Linked DNA regions of Homo sapiens. The protein of the gene in region 1 interacts with the protein of each later gene in a pairwise test. Each region holds a gene or a part of one and is shown in the gene's direction. Other genes may lie near its edges. The genes, in order: DNM2, UBASH3A, FOXA2, ZNF366, FBXO42, ATL1 and TEF.

Region 1 (3,500 bases):
GCTGGGATTACAGGTGTGTACCACCCTGCCTGGCTAATTTTTTTTTTATTTTTTATTTTTTTTATTTTTAGTAGAGACGGGGTTTCACCATGTTGCACAGGCTGGTCTCGAACTCCTGAGCTCAGGCAATCCACCCACCTCAGACTCCCAAAGTGCTAGGATTACAGGCGTGAGCCACCACGCCCAGCCCATTCAGCTACTTTTTTGTATTTTTAGTAGAGATGGGGTTTCACCATGTTGGCCAGGCTGGTCTCGAACTCCTAACCTCAGGTGATCGCCTGCATCCCCCTCCCAAAGTGCTGGGATTACAGGTTTTAGCCACCTTGCCCAGCCAAATATCCTGATTTTAAAACTCTGCATTCAAACAGCAGCCCGGGGCCATAGACATCCTCTGGCCCAGAGGCACAGATTGCTACCATGATGGGTTCCTTGCGATAAGTTTTAAATTTGTTTTTCAATAAATGACACCTGCATGTGGCTCAGAATTCAAAAATTACAGAAAGGTATATCGCAAAAACCTACCTTGTCAACCAGTTTTGCACACATATTTTAGGTTCTTCAGATGACAATGCAAACATGAGCTGGGTGTGGTTTCACACACCTGTCATTCAAGCTGCCTGAAAGGCTGAGTCAGGAGGGTCACTTGGGCCCAGGAAGTCGAGGTTGCAGTGAGCTATGATCACATCTGTGAATAGCTACTGCACTTCACCTGGGTAACATAGCAAGACCCTCTATCTTAAAAAAAATGTGTAAGCAAAAAACATGTAAGCAATTGTGATTGTATCTATGTATATGTTGTGTATGTGTTTATCACTCCTTTTCCTTAAATTGTTAGCATAACATAAAAATCACTTATGCTTTTTTTGAGATGGAGTTTCACTCTTATTGCCCAGGCTGGAGTGCAATGGTGCAATCTTGGCTTACCGCAACCTCCACCTCCCGGGTTCAAGTGATTCTCCTGCCTCAGCCCCCTGAGTAGCTGGGATTACAGGCATGCGCCACCTCACCCGGCTAATTTTGTATTTTTAGTAGAGACGGGGTTTGTCCGTGTTGGTCAGGCTGGTCTCGAACTCCCGACCTCAGGTGATCGCCTGCCTTGGCCTCCCAAAGTGCTGGCATTACAGGTGTGAGCCACTGCGTTGGCCTATGCTTTTTTTTTTTTTTTGTATGCCTCTCAGAATGTTTCTTTATTATATATTTATTTTTTTTTTTTTTTGAGACAGGGTTTAACACTGTTGGCCAAGCTGGAGTACAGTGGTGAGATCTTGGCTCACTTCTTCTCCTGGGCTCAGGCGATCCTCCCGCCTTAGTCTCCTGAGTAGTTAGGACAACAGATGCACACCATCATGCCAGGCTAATTTTTTATATTTTTGGTAGAGGTAGGGTTTCGCCATCTTGCCCAGGCTGGTTTCGAACTCCTGAGCTCAAGTGATCTACCCATCATGGCCTCCCAAAGTGCTGGGATGACAGGCATGAGTCACCGCGCCTGGCCTCATCCATTTGTCTTTTGTTTTTGTTTTTTTGAGACAGTCTTGCTCTGTCGCCCAGGCTGGAGTGCAGTGGTATGATCTCAGCTCACTGCAACCTCCACCTTCTGGGTTCAAGTGTTTCTCATGCCTCAGCCTCCAGAGTAGCTGGGAGTACAAGTGTGTGCTACCACGCCCAGCTAATTTTTGTATACTTAGTACAGATGGGGTTTTGCCATGTTGGCTAGGCTGGTCTAGAACTCCTGGCCTCAAGTGATCCACCCACCTCGGCCTCCCAAAGTGCTGGGATTGCAGATGTGAGCCACCGCACCCAGCCTCATCTGTTTGTCTGTAATGGTTCTTTGGTATTGGCTGAATGGATGGGCTGAAATTTATTCAGTCATTTAGGTCTATTCCAGTCTGAACTGTCCTGATTTAGAACTGTGCCATTGAAATGGAGTAGGTAGAAGGTATCTGTAGGATGGGATCCTAGAAGGGGAGTTACTGGATCAAAGGTGTGGTTCAGGCAGAGTGTCAGGCGACATCCTCAAGTCTGAGCCCCGCGCAGGAACTTTGGTAGTCAGCTGGGTGGCTGCGGGCCTGTTTGTGCCTCCCCTCTCCTGGCTCTGAATGCCTTTCCTTCTGGTTTCCCTCCCAGTGTTGAACTTGACCCTCATCGACCTCCCGGGTATCACCAAGGTGCCTGTGGGCGACCAGCCTCCAGACATCGAGTACCAGATCAAGGACATGATCCTGCAGTTCATCAGCCGGGAGAGCAGCCTCATTCTGGCTGTCACGCCCGCCAACATGGACCTGGCCAACTCCGACGCCCTCAAGCTGGCCAAGGAAGTCGATCCCCAAGGTAACCCTGAGCCTAGGGCAGTCCCCTCTTCCAGGTGCCTCTGAGCATGGGATGTGCCCAGCATCCTTGGTTCCAAGTCACTGGCGTTCTCTTTAATCCATGGCCGCTGTAGGAAAAGGCCTCCTGGAACATGGCACTTCCTCCGAGAACCAGCAGTGCTGGTGGGCATCCCCTGGGAAGTCACTGTGTGGCAGTTGGACGGTCCTCCTTGGACATGGCAGTGCCCATGTTGCCAGAGTGGGAAGCTAGCCTAGGGCTGAAGGAAGGGCCCAGCGCTCCATCGCCCAGATGCGATCTTAGGTCCCATCTAGCTGTTACTCTGCTCCCTGAGACATGGTCCCCTCTTAGTCAGAACGGGAACTTCAGTCCTAACCCAGATAGCTGATGTGAGGACTGTTGAACTTTTGGGTTGTTTCTGATCTTTGCATGGTGAGATCGTCTATTTCCCTTCGAGTTGACACCCCTGGGCCCCTCTAGTCAGATCCTTCTACTGAACCCTCACTGCAGAATGTGAGCAGGAAGGGGCCCCAGGGAGGGCACAGCTGTGGCCCCCTTGATGCCCAAATTGGCACCCACCAGAGATCTTCACTCTGGCTTCCATCTGTCCCCAGTGTCTCATGCACATGCCACACATATAACACACACGGTTAGCACAGAGCCAGGCCCTCAGCCCCCGTGGGAGCAGTTGATCTGCAGAGGTGAGACTTTGCTAGAAAGACATCCTTGACTCTGGAATGACTTGTGGAGAGGTGGAATTGGATGGGATGGTTTCCAGAGTGGAATTTTAGCCATTCAGGCAAGAGGTAGTCCTGGAAACAGTCGTGTCAAACTCAAATGTTCCCTTGGGACTTTGCCGGCACTTGGAAAGTCCAGCATCAAAATCTGGCCCAGGAATCATGTTTACGTGAGGTTTCCCAAAGCCTGCAGCAGCAGAGGTTGTCCTTAATAACACAAATGACAATAACGGCCAGCATTTGTTGAGTATTTGCCGTGTGCCAGGCTCACCCTTATGACCACCCTGTGAGATCAGGGCTGTGACCATCTTCATTCGACATGTCGGAAACTGGGGTCCAGGCCTGTGACGTTCTGGCTTTCCCAGGTGATGTGACCTGGAAGTTTCAGGGCCAACTGGACCCCAGGTGGCTTGCAGCTGCCAGCTGATGCTCTTTCCT
Region 2 (3,500 bases), on another chromosome or scaffold:
CAACAGAGCGAGACTGGCAAAAAAAAAAAAAAAAAAAAAAAAGACAGAAAGGAAAGGACTATTGTAAAGATCTATGAATACATGTTTTGCTTATTAATTCTTTTTTATTTATTTATTTTTTAAATGTAGGGGCCATGCTAATCTTCTCTGCAGCATTCCAATTTTAGTTATATGTGCTGCCAAAGTGAGCACAATTCACTTTAAAGAATGATTTGAGTGAAACCTCATTCTGGGACTTCCTGCCCATGAATCGATGGGTTTAGAAACGAAGTGTGTGATGCTCCTTTCAGACCCAGAGAGCACGTGTGAATGAATCCACCATGTTCTGTATCGTATGAGGTGTCAATAACCTCACACCGAGGAAGGCGGATGTGAAAGTCTGCTTATGCCTTCAGATCTTTTGTAGACAAAAAAGTACCTAGATGGATGGATGATGGATAGATCCCAAAATGTATCTCTTTTTTTTTTCTTTTTTTCTTTTTTTTTTTTTTTTTTTTTTGAGAGGGAGTCTCACCCTGTCACCCAGGGTAGAATGCAGTGGAGTGATCTGCGCCCACTTCAACCTTCGCCTCCCAGGTTCAAGTGATTCTCCTGCCTCAAGCTTCCCAAGTAGCTGGGACTACAGGCACCCGCCACCATGTCCAGCTAATTTTTGTATTTTCAGTAGAGACGGGGTTTCACCATATTGGCCAGGCTGGTCTCAAACTCCTGACCTTGTGATCCACCCACCTCGGCCTTCCAAAGTGCTGGGATTACAGGCGTGAGCCACCGCGCCTGGCCCCAAAATGTATTTCTAAATCTATCCAAAGAATTCTATGCTGCGTTTCATTACATTCTGTGCTATATATTGCCAGACAAAGCTTTGGATGGAGTCTTGGAGACACAGAACACATTGGAGGGGCAGAAAGCAGGAGGTGGCAGGTGATAGGCCTCCTATTGCTGCCATTTTCCAATGTAAATCTTTGCTCGAGACGTGAAACCCCTTTGCCTCTTTTCTAGACCCTGAGAGCCCTATTCCAGTACAAACCCCAGAACGTGGATGAGCTGACGCTAAGTCCTGGTGACTACATCTTTGTGGACCCCACGCAGCAGGACGAAGCCAGCGAGGGCTGGGTGATTGGGATCTCACAGCGGACGGGCTGCCGGGGCTTCCTGCCGGAAAACTACACGGATCGAGCCAGTGAGTCTGACACGTGGGTGAAGCACAGGTGAGTGCTGCCTCTGGCTGCAGCCCCGTCATCTCTCTCTGAGTTACTGTGTGAGAGTGCCCACCTGCCAACAGTGTGCTTCTAGACCATTCCATTATTGGTAAAATTGCATTCTGTATGCTGACAAAATTATTCCTGCAGGTATATAGTAAACATCTTGGTTCGTCCCTGGTTTTCTGATGATAACATTCAAAAAAGAATGAATTACTCTGCATTAGAGTAATTTGAGATGGTAATCCCCAAATTACTGCAAAATACTACTTCTTTATCACACACATAATAAATTATACTCAGAGGTCCTGAGCTTGGGTTTATTTATTCTTCTGCTCCGTGTATGAAATGTAAAGTCCTAGGTCGTATTATTAGTTTTCTATGACTGTATAATAAATTACCACTAAAACAAAGTGCAATTATTATCTTATGGTATTTATGGGTTGAGAGTCAGAGTCCAGCTTCACTGGGTCCTCAGCTCGGGGTCTCAAGGCTGTAATCAAGGTGCCTGCCAGGGCTGGGCTCCCCACTGAGGCTTCACACCCTCGCCTGAGCATACACAGTTGTTGGTGGGAGTGATTTCCTTGAAGCTGTAGGGCTCCTGGTGAGTTGCTTCTTCATCAGCTGAAGAATCTCTTAATTTTAGCACCTTTTAGCATCATCTGGTGAGGCTAAGGATTTTCAGAATCATCAGATACTGGTTCTTTTTTGTTCGATGTTCTTCCCTCAATTTATCTCTTTCCTCTCCCGCTTCACTATAAATAACATGAAGAAACCAGGTGATACACTTAACACTTTGTTTGGAAATAGCCTTAGCTATGTGACCAACATCATCGCTTACAAGTCCTGCTCTCCATGGACAATTTCATTAAACTCTCTGGCACACATGGGAAGGATCCTCCTTGCTCCGATTTCCTGGAACACCTGTCACATTCCTTTCTGAGTTCTCCCCGGAGGATTCACCTTTAGCATCCCTATTTCCTCTAGCAGTCTGTTCATGGTGATTTGGGCTTTCTCTGCTGTGCTACTCAAAAGTCTCTTAGCCTCTACTCGCTGCCAAGTCCCAAAGTTGTTTCCACATTTTAAGTTCAGAAGGTTTCCAACTTACAATGGTTTGGCTTAGGATTTCATAATGTTACGAAAGTGATATGGGTTCAATAGAAACTGTACTTCAAGTGCCCATACAATCATTCTGTGCTACATTTTCAGTACAACATTCAACGAATTACATGAGATACTCAACACTTGATTATAAAATCGGCTTTGTGTTAGATTATTCCGCCCTATCATAGGCTACTGTAAGTGTTCTGAGCGTGTTTAAGGTAAGCTAGGCCAAGCTGTGATGTTCAGTAGGTTAGGTGCATTAAATGCATTTTCAATTTATGATGGGTTTGTTGGAACATAACCCCATCTGAAGTTGAAGAACATCCACTGTTTGTTAGAGTAGCACCCCATTCCTGATACCAAATTTAGTAAAAGTTTAACCAGAGATGCAGAACCAGTCACTTTCATACAATATATAATACATATAAGTATATGTACAGTTGTCCCTTGCTATCTGCAAGGGATTGGTTCCCGGACCCCCACAGATACCCAAATCCTCATGTTCTCGAGTCCCCGATATAAAATGCTGTAGTATTTACATGCAACTTATGCACATCACCCTGTATCCTTTAAATCATCTCTAGATTACTTGTGATATGTAATACAGTATAAATACTATGCAAATAGTTGTTATACGGTATTGTTTTTTATTTGTATTTTTTAAATTGTATTGCTATTTTTTAATTGATTAATCTTTTGAATATTTTTGGCCTGCAGTTGGTTGAATCCACAAATGCAGAACCTCCAGATACAAAGGGCTGACTATACATACATAGTATTTTATATTATATACACATGTATCACACACATATATATATGGAAAGGTATATATGTATACACACATCTATATTGATTTACTACAATGAATTGCCTTATGGAATTACTGGGGCTAGCTAAGCAAGGGCAGACAGGCAGGAAGGGAGGAGCCTACTTAGGCTGAAAACCCATGGGCAAGCTGAAGCTTGTTGTCCACATGTGGCAGTTGGAAGGACCACCCGGGTGATGGGAGAGCAGTCACAGACACAGCTGCTATTGAAGTCTCTGAGTGTGAGGAAAGCCTAAGTTTTTAAAAAAAAATGCCTTCCAACTGCATAAGTCAGACCTGCTCAGAATAACCTTGCTTTTGATTAATTTAAGCTCAACTGATTAGGGGTTCTAGTCACATTTGTAAAATCTCCTTCCAGCAGCACCTAGACT
Region 3 (4,148 bases), on another chromosome or scaffold:
TGCCCACTAGTTCCTATGCATTCTCTGTGTCTGAGGGGGTGGGTACAGGGCTGGATCCCCAAGGTCCAGCCAGGTTTTCAGAACCAAGAAAGAGCCTCCACATCCAAACACCTGCAATATCCCCCCACTCCAAATCTGGGCTCACAGGCTAACCCAGAACAGAAGACAATTTTTGAACCCAAGAGCTGCTGGGGAAATAAAAGTATACGATTGCTGGAGTTTCTAATTTCTATTAAGCAGTCCCTCTGGAAGACAGAGAGGACAGAGACGCTCTTGAAGTCAACTCCATATGCCCCATCATTGATTCCTGGATTCTTCTCTCCTCACCCCTCCCTCCCCACCTCCTGCCCTGTTTGTTTTAGTTACGAAATGCTGTGGGCACCTCGGTTGTGACTGAAAAGTAACCTTGAAACACGCCGGCCTGAATATCAGAGACAAATCTCAGCCTCCCAACCGTCGGCCGCTGCTAGAGGGGCTGCTTGCGCCAGGCGCCGGCCGCCCCACTGCGGGTCCCTGGCGGCCGGTGTCTGAGGAGTCGGAGAGCCGAGGCGGCCAGACCGTGCGCCCCGCGCTTCTCCCGAGGCCGTTCCGGGTCTGAACTGTAACAGGGAGGGGCCTCGCAGGAGCAGCAGCGGGCGAGTTAAAGGTGTGTACGTAGTTTTTCTAAATAGGACAGCGCTTTGCAAATTGGCTGTCATGGACTTGCTGTTTTGACAGAGAATGAGCACTGAGAGCGAAGAAACCCGGCATAAATAAATCCGGCTTTCATAGGGATCTGCCGGGCACTGAGGCTGGACGCGCCCTCCGACAGGCGCACCGGGCGCCCGGCGCGATGAGACGGGGCGGGGGCTGGAGGCCGGAGCCGCCCCAGAGGGTGGTTTCCTCCCAGGTCCCTCCTTCCTCAGGGGACTCGCTGTGGACCCGGGAGGAAAGGGGGCTCGACCAGGGATCCCGCGTGCCCGATCGCCCGCCCAGCCCGCTCCCCTGGCCCGCCCAGGAGTGCGGGGCGCCGCGGCGGTGGGGCGGACGGCAGGCGCTGAGGGGCAGGTGCGGAGCGCCGGCTGCGGCTACCTCTCACCTAGGTGTGAGCTGATTATTCAAATGGGCTGCCCCGGGTCTGGGGATTGGAGGCCCGCGCCAGCGCGCCGCGCTATATCACCAGCCTCCCACGTCACTGCGGCACTTGTCCGCTCCGCGGTCCACACCTCCTCCTCCTCCTCCTCCTCCTCCTCCTCCTCCTCCTCCTCCACCACCACCACCGCCTCCTCCTCCTCCTTCCTCCTCCTCCTCCCCACCCCCCCACTAGCCCCCGCGCCGCGCGCTTCCCGCCGCCTCGGGGCAGCTCGGCACTGCCAACCTCAGCCGCCACCCGGCAGCCCGTGAGCGCGGCGGCGGCGGGTGCTCCCTACCGCGGGGCGCTGGCCTGGGCCTCCTCCGCTCCTCGCCCCCCCCCACCTCCCGCCCACTTCCAACTACCGCCTCCGGCCTGCCCAGGGAGAGAGAGGGAGTGGAGCCCAGGGAGAGGGAGCGCGAGAGAGGGAGGGAGGAGGGGACGGTGCTTTGGCTGACTTTTTTTTAAAAGAGGGTGGGGGTGGGGGGTGATTGCTGGTCGTTTGTTGTGGCTGTTAAATTTTAAACTGCCATGCACTCGGCTTCCAGTATGCTGGGAGCGGTGAAGATGGAAGGGCACGAGCCGTCCGACTGGAGCAGCTACTATGCAGAGCCCGAGGTAAGCGCTCGTCTTTTCCAGGGGGAAGTGGAGCGGCGGCGCTCGCTCCTTCCCCAACCTCAGGACCGCTTCCCTCGCTGGCACCCCCCCACCCCGCCCCACAACCCCAGCCTTTCTGGGCAGCCGCCTTTTCCGCCCTCCTTGGAATCAAATGGGTCTCTTTTTTATACGACACACTGTTAGCCTTGAGATAATATTAACTTTGTGATCAAATATTGACTTGCGGCGCCTCCAAATCCTCTTCGTGGCCGAGCCACGCACTATCCTAACAGAGTTATGTTTGGCAGCGCGCGGCTGGGGAGGGGTGGGAGGTCGGCCGGCGAGGGGGTGGGGAGCTGAGGAGGAGAAGATGGGTAGGAGTTGGGGGCTGAAGTGGAGGCAGAGTCAAAGACTAGTGGACAAAGAGAAAGAAAGTTTTTGCCTGCAAAGCTCAGCCGCGTGTGGTTCAGGTCTCGGTTCTTTCCCTATTGCCCCGTTCAGTGCCTCCAGCCGCCCCCGCACTCCGCACAGGCACTGCCTTGCAGTTTCCCTGGGACAAGGGAGGGGGTCCCTGGAGGGAGACCGGACAGAGGGGGCCCGGGACAGTCTTCGCTGGAGGCAGCCCGAGGCGCCCCGCGCGTTGTCCCGCAGGTTGCTTGCTGCGACCGGAGGTGGCGTCCGGGGACTTCGGGCCTCGGCGCCAGCTCAGTATGCTGGTGGGAGAGTTTGGGGAGACTCTGGGGTAGGGGAATGTATTTGGGGTGCTGGCTTGGGAGTACTCCATGGGACCCCTGTTCTAGAATCTGGGCGAGGTGGAGAAGGGCTAGGAACGGGCCACATGCCCAAGCAGCAATCCGCTCGCCACCTTCCCAAGGGCGATCGATCATGACTCTCCCTGAATGAAACAGACTCGGAGTCCGGAGACTGGGCCATCGGGGACGAAAGGGCTCCCCGGAGGCCTCCCCGGACGCGGAGGCCTGGGCGGTGGGTGGGAGGTCTGGGCACCCTCCAGCCGCGGTGCTAACGCTGTCGCCTCCCTCCCGGGGCTCTGTCCGCAGGGCTACTCCTCCGTGAGCAACATGAACGCCGGCCTGGGGATGAACGGCATGAACACGTACATGAGCATGTCGGCGGCCGCCATGGGCAGCGGCTCGGGCAACATGAGCGCGGGCTCCATGAACATGTCGTCGTACGTGGGCGCTGGCATGAGCCCGTCCCTGGCGGGGATGTCCCCCGGCGCGGGCGCCATGGCGGGCATGGGCGGCTCGGCCGGGGCGGCCGGCGTGGCGGGCATGGGGCCGCACTTGAGTCCCAGCCTGAGCCCGCTCGGGGGGCAGGCGGCCGGGGCCATGGGCGGCCTGGCCCCCTACGCCAACATGAACTCCATGAGCCCCATGTACGGGCAGGCGGGCCTGAGCCGCGCCCGCGACCCCAAGACCTACAGGCGCAGCTACACGCACGCAAAGCCGCCCTACTCGTACATCTCGCTCATCACCATGGCCATCCAGCAGAGCCCCAACAAGATGCTGACGCTGAGCGAGATCTACCAGTGGATCATGGACCTCTTCCCCTTCTACCGGCAGAACCAGCAGCGCTGGCAGAACTCCATCCGCCACTCGCTCTCCTTCAACGACTGTTTCCTGAAGGTGCCCCGCTCGCCCGACAAGCCCGGCAAGGGCTCCTTCTGGACCCTGCACCCTGACTCGGGCAACATGTTCGAGAACGGCTGCTACCTGCGCCGCCAGAAGCGCTTCAAGTGCGAGAAGCAGCTGGCGCTGAAGGAGGCCGCAGGCGCCGCCGGCAGCGGCAAGAAGGCGGCCGCCGGAGCCCAGGCCTCACAGGCTCAACTCGGGGAGGCCGCCGGGCCGGCCTCCGAGACTCCGGCGGGCACCGAGTCGCCTCACTCGAGCGCCTCCCCGTGCCAGGAGCACAAGCGAGGGGGCCTGGGAGAGCTGAAGGGGACGCCGGCTGCGGCGCTGAGCCCCCCAGAGCCGGCGCCCTCTCCCGGGCAGCAGCAGCAGGCCGCGGCCCACCTGCTGGGCCCGCCCCACCACCCGGGCCTGCCGCCTGAGGCCCACCTGAAGCCGGAACACCACTACGCCTTCAACCACCCGTTCTCCATCAACAACCTCATGTCCTCGGAGCAGCAGCACCACCACAGCCACCACCACCACCAACCCCACAAAATGGACCTCAAGGCCTACGAACAGGTGATGCACTACCCCGGCTACGGTTCCCCCATGCCTGGCAGCTTGGCCATGGGCCCGGTCACGAACAAAACGGGCCTGGACGCCTCGCCCCTGGCCGCAGATACCTCCTACTACCAGGGGGTGTACTCCCGGCCCATTATGAACTCCTCTTAAGAAGACGACGGCTTCAGGCCCGGCTAACTCTGGCACCCCGGATCGAGGACAAGTGAGAGAGCAAGTGGGGGTCGAGA
Region 4 (3,500 bases), on another chromosome or scaffold:
GCTGTGTCAGCAGGGGACATGTCAGGCACCACAGGAGTCACCAAGCCTGCCCCTTACTTTGACACCTGTCTGAAAGGAGAGACCCATGTGCGGCTTTATTTCACATAATAAAGGAATATTTCATTCCAGCTTGCTTCAGGTTTAAGAGTGGAATGTGTACATTGCCAGGATGACTTTATAACATTGAGCTACTCAATATGCTTTTTAAAATCATGTTTATGTCATTCACTCCCTATGCCTTAGTAGCACACCTTACTCAGAGTGGATACTCAGAAACGATTAGATCTGAGTTAAGCATTAACATCCCTTCTCCTATGAGGCTTTGAATATCCTCATTTTCCAGCAGCAAAGGCCCAAGCAAGGGAGTAGCAGTGAAAATTGGTTTCCTTACACAAAGAAAAGACCCTAAAAGTCACTTTCCAATCACCATTAGTAGATGTAATTACAACTCAGATTGAAAAGCTGCAGCAGAATGGGTCTAGTGCTCACTCCTTCAGTGAGTACCTATGTAACTTGAGAATGTCATTTCATTTATCTGGACTTTGGTACCCTGATCTTAAATGGGGACAATGGCCAGATGAGTTCTCAGGTTTCTTCCCAAACTAGTCCACTTCCCTTGCTACCATCACCCCTTGTGGTTTTGTGGCTGGATTTACACTGGAGCCCAATTTGATTCAGCCCTAGGGTCACCCCAAGAGGCCAGTGCTATCCATATTGATAACTGGGTTTGCAAGGAGAAAGAAAAGCGATATTTTGAACAGCCCTAGGATAAATGAGGGTCCATATTAAGCAAGTACTACTCTTCATAAATTAGTACTGATAAATAGCCATAATCCTTAAGGAAAAAGAGAATTTTAAACAAAACCAAACCAAAACACACAAGTTTCTTTCTCTTTAAAGGAAAATTGCCAAGGATGCAGAAGGAAATGAAGATGATCAAAGACGAGGATGTGCATTTCGACTTGGCTGTGAAGAAGACCCCCTCCTTTCCCCACTGCCTGCAGCCAGTGGCTTCTCGGGGAAAGGCTCCCCAAAGACACCCCTTCCCGGAAGCTCTCCGAGGGCCATTTTCCCAGTTTCGGTATGAACCTCCCCCAGGAGACCTAGATGGGTTCCCCGGGGTCTTCGAAGGAGCAGGGTCTAGGAAACGGAAGAGCATGCCCACAAAGATGCCCTATAACCACCCTGCAGAAGAAGTCACCCTCGCCCTCCACTCAGAGGAGAACAAAAACCACGGCCTTCCCAACCTCCCTTTGCTGTTCCCGCAGCCCCCGCGCCCCAAGTATGACTCTCAGATGATCGACCTGTGCAACGTGGGCTTCCAATTCTACCGCAGCCTGGAACACTTTGGGGGCAAGCCCGTCAAGCAGGAACCCATTAAGCCCAGCGCCGTGTGGCCCCAGCCAACGCCCACTCCATTCCTGCCCACGCCCTACCCCTACTACCCCAAAGTCCACCCGGGCCTCATGTTCCCCTTCTTCGTGCCCTCGTCCTCGCCCTTCCCCTTCAGCCGGCACACCTTCCTGCCCAAGCAGCCCCCGGAACCTCTGCTGCCCCGGAAAGCCGAGCCCCAGGAGAGCGAGGAGACCAAGCAGAAGGTGGAGAGGGTGGACGTGAACGTGCAGATCGATGACAGCTACTACGTGGACGTGGGCGGCTCGCAGAAGCGCTGGCAGTGCCCCACCTGCGAGAAGTCCTACACCTCCAAGTACAACCTGGTCACCCACATCCTGGGCCACAGTGGGATCAAGCCGCACGCGTGCACGCACTGCGGGAAGCTCTTCAAGCAGCTCAGCCACCTGCATACCCACATGCTGACCCACCAGGGCACGCGGCCCCACAAGTGCCAGGTGTGCCACAAGGCCTTCACCCAGACCAGCCACCTGAAGCGCCACATGATGCAGCACAGCGAGGTGAAGCCGCACAACTGCCGCGTGTGCGGCCGCGGCTTTGCCTACCCCAGCGAGCTCAAGGCCCACGAAGCCAAGCACGCCAGTGGGCGCGAGAACATCTGTGTGGAGTGCGGCCTCGACTTCCCCACCTTGGCCCAGCTGAAGAGACACCTCACCACGCACCGGGGCCCCATCCAGTACAACTGCTCCGAGTGCGACAAGACCTTCCAGTACCCGAGCCAGCTGCAGAACCACATGATGAAGCACAAGGACATCCGGCCCTACATCTGCTCAGAGTGTGGCATGGAGTTTGTGCAGCCGCACCACCTCAAGCAGCACTCCCTCACCCACAAGGTACTGCGGGGCCTCTGGTGGGGCGGACGGGGCCTTGGGAAGAGGAGCGGGGCCCTGAGCAGAGCACTGGGGAGCAGGACGCCTGTGCCGCTCTGCACCTTACCCCGAGGAGGTGGGCAACCCCGGACAAGCGGTCCCTTGGCCGAGCCCTGAGGTCCTTCCTCACGTTTAAATAAGAGAGAACGATTCTCGACCAAGCCCTTTGCCCCAGCAGCCTTCTAGACTCTAAGGTAGGCCTAGAAATAAATAATGCAGACATTTGCAGAGGAGATGAGGAAGGATGCTCCCTAGCCTCCAAGAATCTTGCAGATTCGGTTTCTAGAAACTTCATCCAAGGCACTAGCATGAGTAAGTCATCAGACCCTAGATCAGCTCTGTGCCTGGGATGTGCCAGGGAGCACCTTCTGGATAATTCTCTTCGTCTTGTACTGTTGAAGCAGTGGAAAACTTTTTGGATTGTTTTCTCCCTCAACTGTGAGACCTGCTTCATATGCAAGTTCTCCAAGGGAAGCAGAGCTTGGCTGAGGCCGGCAGGGCCTATACCTCCCTGCGTTGGACCCGTGCCTAGCTGGGTGAAGTGCCCTGTGGTTTACATTGTAGGAGGCATGAGAAAGCATCCTTCTCTGTTTGGTTTTGTTTGATCTTCTCTGTGCTCAGGTCTTCAAGGGGAAATACAGGCCCAAGAGTCTGAGTTCAGCCCAGTTTGCAACCATAGCCCTGGAGTCATTCAGGCTGAACTAAAACAAGGCCCTAGTGGTGTTCCTGAAATCTTACCCCAGCTAAAGTATGGAACCTGCTCTGAGCCTCCGAGAGGGAGTTTTGCCCCCACTGACTCCCACTCTCACACCCTTAACCTCAAGTGGTTTTCTTGGCAGGAAAGACTTCTAGCAAGCCAGAGTTTCTAAAGCATTCTTTAATTCTGAAAGGTCAGGAGAGGACTTTGCCCAGCCAAGATAATGTTTCTGCTGTGCTATAATACGTTTCACTTCTTAGGTTAGGACAAAACACAGGGTATTTTCTGGCTCTGCCACAGAGATGAAATGTGTGGCTGCCTTGTGGGCTCTGCACAAACAGCTCCTGCCCTACAAAAGGTACCTGTAGATACTATCCAGAGGGGAGTCGCCTGCCAAGTGCAGGAACCATCAACAAAGGACCCAGACTGGGATTCAGCCGTAAAGGGGACCATTCGCTAACTTCAGGGGCTCCTTTATATGTGGGAAAGGAATCAAAAGTGCATTTTAGAGCATATGAAGA
Region 5 (3,500 bases), on another chromosome or scaffold:
GAACTTGATATAATTGTAATCGTATAGTATATATTCTTCTTCTTCTTTTTTTTTTTTTCTTCGAGACATGGTCTAACTCGGTTGCCCAGGCTGGAGTCCAGTGGTGTGGTCATGGCTTCCTGTAGCCTCAAACTCTTGGGCTCAAGTGATCCTCCTGCTCAGCCTCCTGGGTAGCTGGGACCACAGATGTGTGCCAGCACACCCGGTTAATTATTTTTTTGTAGAGATGGTGTCTCACTTTGTTGCCCAGGCTGGTCTCAAATTCCTGACCTCAAATGATCCTCCTGTTTTGGCTTACTAAAGTGTTGGGATTATAGGCATGAGCCACTGTGCCTGCCCATTCTTCTGTCTTCTGTTTGTTTGTTTGTTTGTTTGTTTGCTTGTTTGAGATGGAGTCTTGCTGTATTGTCTAGGCTGGAGTGCAGTGGCCAGTCTTGGCTAACTGCAACCTCTGCATCCCAGGTTCAAGTGATTCTCCTGCCTCATCCTCCCAAGTAACTGGGATTACAGGCACATGCATCACCAAGCCTGGCTAAGTTTTGGATTTTTGTTTGTTTGTTTGTTTGTTGAGACGATCTCACTCTATTGCCCAGGCTGGAGTGCGGAGTGATCTCTGCTCACTGCAACCTCCACCTCCTGGGTTCAAGTGATTTTCATGCCTTAACCTCCCTAGTAGCTGGGACTGCAGGCATACGCTACCACGCCCAGCTAATTTTTGCATTTTTAGTAGAGATGGAGTTTCACTGTGTTGGCCAGGCTGGTCTTGAACTCCTGACCTCAGATGATCTGCCTACCTTAGCCTCCCAAAGTGCTGGGATTACGGGTGTGAGCCACTGCGCCCGGCCTAATTTTTGTATTTTTTAGTAGAGACGGAGTTTCACCATGTTGGTCAGGCTGGTTTTGAACTCCTGACCTCAGGTGATCCGCCCGCCTCAGCCTCCCAAAGTGTTGGGATTACAGGCGTGAGCCACTGCATCCGGCCTTCTATCTTCTTTTGCTTAACATTATGTTTGAGAGATTTATTTATATGTATATAACCTGTGGTTCTTTGCTCTATATTTCATGGCGAATGTACCACAATTTATTTGCTCTGTTGTTGATAGACATTCATGTTGTTCTAGTTTTTTACTGCCTGGATCTCTTAATGATTCATATTTTCTATTGTAAATACTGCCTTGTATTTGGTATTTTAGCAAGTGAAGTCTATTCTTGGAACATTTACTATCTTTTTTTTTTTTTTTTTTTTTTTTGAGAGTCTTTCTCTGTGTCCCAGGCTGGAGTGCAGTGGCATGATCTCGACTCACTGCAACCTCTGTCTCCCAGGTTCAAGCAGTTCTCCTGCCTCAGCCTCCTGAGTAGCTGGGATTACAGGCACGCGCCACTACACCTGGCTAATTTTTGTATTTTAGTAGAGATGGGATTTCGCCATGTTGCCCACGCTGGTCTCGAACTCCTGACCTAAGGTGATCTGCCGGCCTCAGAATCCCAAAGTGCTGGGACTACAGGTGTGAGCCACTGCACCCAACCAAGAACTACTATATTTTGTAAGTGGAAATAACCACTATTAAAAACAGAATGCTATAAATAGAATGATGTCTTTTGTTTCTAAAGTTGATGTACTAGAGCGATGTGAAAACAGTAACAAAAGAGATATTTTGTGGCAAAGTTATCTCGGGGTAAACACCACAGTTGCAGGCACCGCTGGCAAGTATTCTCCGGGCAAACAGGAAAAAGGTTAAGTGAATCGTCTTGCATAAAAGTTTAGAAAAACTGTTCTTTCTTTTCTTTCTTTCTTTTTTTTTTTTTTTTTTGAGATGGAGGTTTGCTCTTGTTGCCCAGGCTGGAGTGCAGTGGCATGATCTCGGCTCACTGCAACTCTGCCTCCCAGGTTCAAGTGATTCTCCTGCCTCAGCCTCCCGAGTAGCTGGGATTACAGGCATGTGCCACCATGCCCAGCTAATTTTCAATTTTTAGTAGAGACGGGGTTTCTCCATGTTTGTCAGGCTGGTCTCAAACTCCCAACTTCAGGTGATCTGCCCGCCTCGGTCTCCCAAAGTGCTGGGATTACAGGTTTGAGCCACCATGCCTGGTCGAAAAACGGTTATTTCTTAACCCATATTCTCAGAATGTTATTACTTTTTGCAAGACCCAGAGTTAGTTTTTCCTTCAAAATTTGAGGTCTTAGATCATTGTTACTGGCCAAGGAGGCTAGTTGCTCTTCCCTTTGCTGTCGGTCAGTCAGATCCTTGAGTTAGAAGAATTGTTGGAGAACAAGTTTTCTGGTTTACGATTATACCAGAACTTGGCTGCCACTCTGGTTTTCAGTGAAGAGAAAAAATGTAATCAAAAGCCTTTGGGGATGGGCTTGGTATTTGAGCTGTACCTGTCGAATTAAGGTGGCTCACAAGTGGTATTGGAAAGTGCTGAAGAGCAGATTTCACACTGAGAGTGGAAACGAAATTACAAAGAGCTTGGATGTACATGCCTGAATTGTTTTTGAGCTGCTTTCAGTGGAATACTGATATTTATGTTTTACCTATTACAGCTGTTGAGTGGAATGTCATGGCCAGCTCCTCGGACAGTGAAGATGACAGTTTCATGGCTGTGGACCAGGAAGAAACTGTGCTGGAAGGGACAATGGATCAAGATGAGGAGCCCCACCCAGTATTGGAGGCTGAGGAGACTAGACATAATAGGTCCATGTCGGAGCTGCCAGAAGAGGTTTTGGAGTATATCCTGTCCTTTCTCTCACCGTATCAGGAACACAAAACTGCGGCCCTTGTCTGCAAACAGTGGTATCGACTTATCAAAGGTACTGTGGATAGGAGAAAGGTTTATTTATTGATTTCAAATTTCACTGATTTATTTTTAGACTCCAAATTTAGTTTTTTTCCTCCCTTAAATGTATTATGGTTATAAAATCTAGCATTAGACGATACTACCCGGTTTTCTTTCTTACCCTGGTTAGTTTAATGAACAGCTTGAATACTGAAGTATCTAATCCCATTTGCATTTTAAAATGAGGATTGTTTTTAAAAGCTTCATATTCTTAGAGTTGATCTGGTTAATTGTATTGTTCTTTTCTTTTTTTTTTTTTCAGACGGAGTCTCACTCTGTCGCCCAGGCTGGAGTGCAGTGGCGCAATCTCGGCTCACTGCAAGCTCTGCCTCCCGGGGTCATGTTATTCACCTGCCTCAGCCTCCAGAGTAGCTGGGACTACAGGCGCCTGCCACCACGCCCGGCTGATTTTTTGTATTTTTACTAGAGACGGGGTTTCACTGTGTTAGCCAGAATAGTCTCAATCTCCTGACCTCGTGATCCGCCCGCCTCAGCGTCCCAAATGGATTAATTGTATTGTTCTTGAATGGGCAAAATAGAAATGGATATGGGATAATAGTAATAGCCAATGTGAACATAGCTTTTATCACGTGTCAAGCACTATTGTAACTGCTTTACATTCTCACAGCAAACTCTGACTAGAAGATCCTGCATTTTATAGA
Region 6 (3,500 bases), on another chromosome or scaffold:
TGCCCATTTTAAAATTAGGTTATCTTTTTCTTCTTGCTTTGTAGGAGTTTTATACATATTTTTTATATAAGTCCTTTGCTGATTGTCTTATAGATCTCTTTTACCACTTTTTGCATGACTTTGATCTCTATGGTGTATTTTAATAAACAGACATTATGTATTTAAACGTAGTCCATTTAAACAATATTTTCCTTTATGGCTTGTACTTTTTATATTTAAAAAAATCTTCTCTTACCTCAAAGTTATAAAATCGTCTTCTATATTATCTGGTTTTAAAATTTTACACTTCATTTTTTTTCAGTTTTTAAAATTTGTGGTAAAATACACATAACATAAATTTTACCATCATAACCATTTTTAAATGTACAGTTCCGTGATACTAGTACACAAGTAAAATATTGTTGTGTAGCTATCACCACTGTCTATCTCCCGAACTCTTCATCTTGCAAAACTGAAACTCTGTGCCCATTAAACAGTAACTCCTCATCCCTCCTCATGGCTACTAGCAGCCACCATTCTACTTTCTTTCACTATGACTTTGACTACTCTGTGTACCTCACGTTAGTGGAATGATACATTTTTTTTTTTACTGGCTTTTTCACATAGCAAAATGTCCTCAAGTTTCATCCATATTGTAGAATATATCACAACTTCCTTCTTTTTTAAGGCTGAATAGCATTCCGTTGTAAGTATACACCACATTTTTTTATCCATTCATCTGTTGACAGACACTGGGTTGCTTTCACATTTTAGCTATTGTGAATGATGCTTCTATGAACATGGTGTACAAGTATCCCTTTGAGACCCTGCTTTCAATTCTTTTGGGTATATACCCAGAAGTGGAATTGCTGGATCTTATGGTAATTCTATTTTTAATGTTTTAAGGAACTGCTATACTGTTTTCCACAGAGGTTGTACCATTTTATGTTCTCATCAACAGTGCACACAGGTTTAAATTTTTTCATATCTTCGCCAACACTTGTTATGTTCTGTTTTTTAAAAAATAGTTGTCATTCTAATGGATGTGATGTGATATCTCATTGTAGTTTTGATTAGCAATTAATATTATGATTTCTCTTGTGATTTTTTCTTTGATCATTTGTTGTTTAAGAGTGTGTTGTTTAATTGCCACAAATTTGTGAATTTTCCAGTTTTCATTCTGTTACTGATTTCCAACTTCATCTCATTGTGGTTGAAGAAAATATTTAGTATTATACCTATCTTTTTAAAATGTATTGAGACTTAATATGTGGACTCCCTTATAGTCTATCTGGAGAATGTTCCAGGTACACAAGAGAAAAATGTGTATTCTATTGTTGTTGGCTAGAATGTCTGTATTTGTCTGTTAGGTCTAATTGGCACATTGTGTTGTTCAAGTTCTCTATTTCTTTGCACGTCTTTATTTCCTTTTTGTTTGTTTGTTTTATCCATTATTGAGAATAGGATATTGAAGTCTCCAACTGTTAGTATAGAACTATTTCTTCTTTCAATTCTGTCAACTTTTGCTTCATATATTTTGATACAGTGTTCCTAGGTACATAGATTTTTGTCATTGTTATATATTCAAATGCCGTATTAAAACTTTTATTAGTATATGATGTCCTAGCCAGGTATGGTGGTATGCACCTGTAGTCTCAGCTATTCCAGAGGCTGAGGCAGGAGGATCCCTTGAGCCCAGGAGTTTGAGGCTATAATGTGCTATGATTTGGCCTGTGACTAGCCACTGTACTCCAGCCTGGACAACATAACAAGATATTGTCTCTAAAAAAAAAACCAGTTCTTTGTTTTCTGTTAACTTCTGTGGTTTTTTAAAGGCTATCTTTTCTGATATTAGTATTGCCACCTCTACTCTCTTTTGGTTTATATTTACGTGGAATATCTTTTTCCACCCTACCACTTTCAATCTGCTTGTGTCTTTGGATCTAAAGCAAAGCTCTTATAGACAGCATAGAGTTGGATCATGTTTTTAAATCCATTCTGCCAATCTCTTTCTTTTGATTGGAGAGTTTATATCTGTTTACATTTAAAGTAATTACTGATAAGGTGTGACTTCTTTTGTTTGTCTTGCTGTTTTCTATTTGTCTTATAGCTTTTTTGTCTCTCATTTCCTGCATTACTGCGCATTACTCTCTGTTGTGTTCAGTTGATTTTTATAGTGTAATGTTTTAATTCGCTTATCATTTCCCTTTGTGCACATTTTTCTAGCTTTTTTTTGTGGTTACCATGGAGATTACATTTAACATTCTAAAGTTGTAACACTCTAATTTGAATTTATACTAGTTTAATTTTAATAACATACAAAAATTCTTCTCCTTTACATGTCCATCCTCACCCCTTTCAGTTATTGGTATCATAAAAGTATACATATTGTGTGTCCAAAACACATAAACTAGTAACTGTTTTTTTAAAATGCACTAGTTTCTCAGCTGGGCATGGTGACTCATGGCTATAATCCAAGCACTTTGGGAGGATGAGGTGGGAGGACTGCTCGAGCCCTGGAGTTCAAGACCAGGAATTCGGGTCAATATGGCAAAACCCTTTCTCCACAAAAAAAAAAATGCAAAAATTATCCAGGTGTGGTGGTGCATGCCTGTAGCCCCAGCTACTCCGGAGGCTGAAGTAGTAGAATCACTTGGGCCCAGGAAGTTGAGGCTGCATTGAGCCATGATCATGCCACTGCATTCTAGCTTGGGCAACAGAGAAAGACTCTGTCTCATTGAGCTGTGATCATGCCACTGCATTCTAGCTTGGGCAACAGAGAAAGACTCTGTCTCAAAAAAAAAAAAAATACATTACTTTCTTAAATTATATAGAAAACAAAATGTGGAATTACAGACCAAAATTACAAGTATTATTATATTAGCTTTTGGACTTACAGTTTTTTTTAAAAGTATTAGTCTCTTAAACCATATAGAATACCAAAGATGAAGCTACAAACTGTTGTTAAAATAATACTACCTTTAATGATTGCCCATGTATTTACCTTTACTGAGATTTTTATTTCTTCATGTGGCTTTAAGTTACTGTGTAGTGTCGTTTCATTTCAACATGCAGGACTGATTACCATTAGCATTTCTTGAAAGGCAGGTCTAGTGGTAACAAACTCCAGCTTTTGTTTATCTGGGGATGTCTTAATTTATTCCTCATTTTTGAGGGACAGGGCTGCTGGATATAGGATTTTTAGTTGACAGGTTTTTTTTCTTTCAGCACTTAGACTATGTCTGCCCACTGCTTTTTTGCTTCCAAAGTTTCTGATGTGAAATTTGCTGACAATCTTGTTAATAATCCCTTATATGTGATATGTCACTTCTCTCTTGTTGTTTTCAAATTTTTCTCTTTGTCTTTGGCCTTTGACAGTTTGATTATAATGTGTCTCAATGTGGGTCTCTTTGAGTTCATCCTACTTAGAATTTGCTGAACTTCTCAGATGTTTATCTTTCATCAAACTTGGAAAGTTTTCAGCTATTATTCTACAAATAATCTCTCTGCCACTTTCTCTT
Region 7 (3,500 bases), on another chromosome or scaffold:
GAACTCCTGACCTCAGGTGATCGACCTACGTTGGCCTCCCAAAGTGGGGAATGCTTTCTTTGTGCCAGGGCATAAGCACTATTCAAGTGCTACCTCCATTACCTACTAGCCTGGGCAACAGAGTGAGACGCCATCTCAAAAAAAAAAAAAAAAGAAAGCATTCCCACCACCTGGCCAGGACAAACATCATCTTCAGAGTCTGTCCTTATTCCTCCTCCTTTTACATTTTATCTCTGGGGGTTTGTTTTCATGCTCCTTGGACACGAACCTACCAAAGGAGACATGGCTCCTGTTGCAGGGGTTCTGCAAAGCTTTCTGCAGTCTCTGAGGCATACAGGCTGATAGCTCCTGCCAGTCGGTATGTCACCCCAGGAATCCACACCCAATAAGTTCTCATACTCTATTTTTTTTTCTTTTTATTGTGGAAATTTTTTCAAACAAAATACAAAAGTAAGAGACGACTATAATGAACCTCTATGTAACCGTCACCCAGCTTCAACAATTCTCAACTCAGAAGCAGTTATTTTCAATCAAATTATAAGTATTTCAATATGTATCTAAAATATAAGGGTTCTTTTAAAAAAAACATAACGAAAATACTAGTTTTACATCTAAAGTTGACAATAAATCCATCAACATTCAGATTTCCAAAGTTGTCTCATAAATGGTATTTTACAGGCCGGGCGCAGTGGCTCACGTCTGTAATCCCAGCACTTTGGGAGGCCGAGGTGGGTGGATCACGAGGTCAGGAGATTGAGACCATCCTGGTTAACACGGTGAAACCCCATCTCTACTAAAAAGTACAAAAAATTAGCCGGGTGTGGTGGCGGGTGCCTATAGTGCCAACTACTCGGGAGGCTGAGGCAGGAGAATGGCGTGAACCCAGGAGGCAGAGCTTGCAGTGAACCGAGATTGCACCACTGCACTCCAGCCTGGGCGACAGAGCAAGACTCCATCTCAAAGAAAAAAAAAGATCGAGACCATCCTGGCCAACATGGTGAAACCTCGACTCTACTAAAAATACAAAAATTAGCTGGGCATGGTGGTGCGTGTCTGTAATCCCAGCTACTTGGAGGCTGAGGCAGGAAAATCGCTTGAACCCGGGAGGCGGAGGTTGCAGTGAGCCGAGATGGCGCCACTGCACTCCAGCCTGGTGACAGAGCAAGACTCCATCTCAAAATAAATAAATAAAAGTTTTTTTTTTTTTTCTGTAGAGTCAGGGTATCACTGTGTTGCCCTGGCTGGTTTCAAATTCATGGCCTCAAACAGTCCTCCCACCTGGGCCTCCCGAAGTGTTGGTTGAAATTACAGGCATGAGCCACTACACCCAGCCGCTTTGTTAAGTTTCATTGCTGAATAGTAGTCAATTGTACTAACGTACCACAGCTTATCCATTTAACCGTTGAAGGACATTCTGATTTTGGTTATGAATAATGCTGCCATGAACATTCATGTGCATGTCTTTTTTTTTTTTTGAGACGGAGTCTTGCTTTTGTCGCCCAGGCTGGAGTGCAGTGGCGGGGTCTCAGCTCACTGCAACCTCCGCCTCCTGGGTTTAAGCGATTCTCCTGCCTCAGCCTCCCAGGTAGCTGGTATTACAGGTGTGCGCCACCACTCCTGGCTTATTTTTGTAGAGATGGGGTTTTGCCATGTTGGCCAGGTTGGTCTCAAACTCCTGACCTCAGGTGATCCACCTGCCTCACCTTCCAAAGTTCTGGGATTACAAGTGTGAGCCACTGTGCCTGGCCCATCTACATGTTTTTTGGTAAATATATATATGCGTTTCTTTTGGGCATTTGCTTAGGAAGAGAATGGCTAGGTCATTGGACATGCATATGTTCAGTTTGTGTAGACCCTGCCAAATAGCGTACAAAGTTGTTATATCCATTTGTACTCACACCAGCAGGGCATTGGAGTTCCATTGTCAGCCTTTGATTTTGACATCTTTTGTAATGGTGGACCTATGAGAGAATTATATTTCAGGCAAGTTACCAACAGATCTATTCCCTTTCCCTCTTCTTCCAGCAAAGTCATTTTAAGGTCTCATTGTCATCTTTTTTTTTTTTTTTTTTTTTTTTTGAGATGGAGTCTCACTCTGTCACCCAGACTGGAGTGCAGTGGTGCGATCTCGGCTCCCGCAACCTCCGCCTCGCAGGTTCAAGTTCTCCTGCCTCAGCCTCCTGAGTAGCTGGGAATACAGGCGCCCACCACCACACCTGGCTAATTTTTGTATTTTCAGTAGAGACAGGGTTTCACCGTGTTGGCCAGGCTGGTCTTGAACTCCTCACCTCAGGTGATCCACCTGCCTCGGAAAGTGCTGGGATTACAGGCGTGAGCCACTGCGCTCAGCCCTCATTGTCATTTTCTAGAATTTGTTCATAGAGGTATCCATGGGGAAATGAGAATTCCTCAAAATCTTGTCCCCAGGCCTCTTTGCAAATTTTCCCCTTTTGTTTCCTGCGGCTTTCTCTTATCCTGTCCCTGAAACTTAACCACATCTTGCCACTTGGTTGTTGCTGAAGGGCACCCAGGCATGGCGTCACTTTGAACAACATTCTCATGTGGTAGGTACCTGAGCTGCTTGTCTTGCAGGTACTAGGTTTGGCATGCCCGAAACTGCCTACAGTTACCATGTGGGTCCCTGGTCATTCACTCCTCTGACACTCAGATGTCTCTGTAATTAACCCCTGTCTAATAGGATACAATGAATTTATGTGCATAATCCAATTAAAGCCTAAGTCTGATCATGCCACACCTCTGCCCAGAGCCCTCCAGGTGTTCTATCTCAGGATAAAAGTCAGAATCAGCAGCACCATTGACATTTAGACCAGATGATTTTTTGTTGGGGTTGGAGGCGTGACTGACCTATGCATTGCAGGATCTTCTTTTCTTTTTTTTTTTTTTAAGACAGTCTTATTCTGTCACCCAGGCTGGAGTGCAGTGGTGTGATCTCAGCTCGCTGCGACCTCTGCCTCCCGGGTTCAAGCGAGTCTCCTGCCTCAGCCCCCTGAGTAGCTGGGATAACAGGCACGGCCGGCTACTTTTTGTATTTTTAGTAGAGACGGGGTTTCATCGTATTGGTCAGGCTGGTCTCGAACTCCTGACCTCAGGTGATCCACCCACCTCAGCCTCTCAAAGTGCCGGGATTACAGGCATGAGCCACCACACCAGGCCGGCATCTGACTTTTTTTTTTTTTTTTGAGAGGGAGTCTCACTCTGTCGCCAGGCTGGAGTGCAGTGGCACCATCTTGGCTCACTGCAATCTCTGCCTACTGGGTTTAAGCAATTCTCCTGCCTCAGTCTCCTGAGTAGCTGGGACTACAGGCGCATGCCATCACGCCCAGCTAATTTTCGTATTTTTAGTAGAGACGGGGTTTCACCATGTTGGCCAGGATGGTCTCGATCTCTTGACCTCGTGATCCACACGCCTCGGCCTCCCAGAGTGCTGAGATTACAGGTGTGCACCACCACGCCTGGCCCATCTGACATTTTTATATATC

What was found.
Region 2: the proteins of DNM2 (region 1) and UBASH3A interact in binary tests that used the Homo sapiens proteins (3 or more experiments, as listed by UniProt).
Region 3: the proteins of DNM2 (region 1) and FOXA2 interact in binary tests that used the Homo sapiens proteins (3 or more experiments, as listed by UniProt).
Region 4: the proteins of DNM2 (region 1) and ZNF366 interact in binary tests that used the Homo sapiens proteins (3 or more experiments, as listed by UniProt).
Region 5: the proteins of DNM2 (region 1) and FBXO42 interact in binary tests that used the Homo sapiens proteins (3 or more experiments, as listed by UniProt).
Region 6: the proteins of DNM2 (region 1) and ATL1 interact in binary tests that used the Homo sapiens proteins (3 or more experiments, as listed by UniProt).
Region 7: the proteins of DNM2 (region 1) and TEF interact in binary tests that used the Homo sapiens proteins (3 or more experiments, as listed by UniProt).

The regions. Positions count from the first base shown.
Region 1 is NC_000019.10:10,773,579-10,777,078, forward strand, and holds part of DNM2 (dynamin-2), read left to right. Parts: intron 1-2,124; coding exon 2,125-2,328; intron 2,329-3,500. UniProt on the Homo sapiens protein: Catalyzes the hydrolysis of GTP and utilizes this energy to mediate vesicle scission at plasma membrane during endocytosis and filament remodeling at many actin structures during organization of the actin cytoskeleton.
Region 2 is NC_000021.9:42,417,402-42,420,901, forward strand, and holds part of UBASH3A (ubiquitin-associated and SH3 domain-containing protein A), read left to right. Parts: intron 1-999; coding exon 1,000-1,208; intron 1,209-3,500. UniProt on the Homo sapiens protein: Interferes with CBL-mediated down-regulation and degradation of receptor-type tyrosine kinases. Promotes accumulation of activated target receptors, such as T-cell receptors, EGFR and PDGFRB, on the cell surface.
Region 3 is NC_000020.11:22,581,773-22,585,920, reverse strand, and holds the start of FOXA2 (hepatocyte nuclear factor 3-beta), read left to right. Parts: upstream 1-1,348; 5' UTR 1,349-1,642; coding exon 1,643-1,729; exon of another isoform or gene 1,730-2,178; intron 2,179-2,766; coding exon 2,767-4,071; 3' UTR 4,072-4,148. UniProt on the Homo sapiens protein: Transcription factor that is involved in embryonic development, establishment of tissue-specific gene expression and regulation of gene expression in differentiated tissues.
Region 4 is NC_000005.10:72,458,911-72,462,410, reverse strand, and holds part of ZNF366 (zinc finger protein 366), read left to right. Parts: intron 1-900; 5' UTR 901-914; coding exon 915-2,246; intron 2,247-3,500. UniProt on the Homo sapiens protein: Has transcriptional repression activity. Acts as a corepressor of ESR1; the function seems to involve CTBP1 and histone deacetylases.
Region 5 is NC_000001.11:16,314,481-16,317,980, reverse strand, and holds part of FBXO42 (F-box only protein 42), read left to right. Parts: intron 1-1,253; exon of another isoform or gene 1,254-1,544; intron 1,545-2,545; 5' UTR 2,546-2,562; coding exon 2,563-2,812; intron 2,813-3,500. UniProt on the Homo sapiens protein: Substrate-recognition component of some SCF (SKP1-CUL1-F-box protein)-type E3 ubiquitin ligase complex. Specifically recognizes p53/TP53, promoting its ubiquitination and degradation.
Region 6 is NC_000014.9:50,566,645-50,570,144, forward strand, and holds part of ATL1 (atlastin-1), read left to right. Parts: intron 1-3,500.
Region 7 is NC_000022.11:41,388,442-41,391,941, forward strand, and holds part of TEF (thyrotroph embryonic factor), read left to right. Parts: intron 1-3,500. UniProt on the Homo sapiens protein: Transcription factor that binds to and transactivates the TSHB promoter. Binds to a minimal DNA-binding sequence 5'-[TC][AG][AG]TTA[TC][AG]-3'.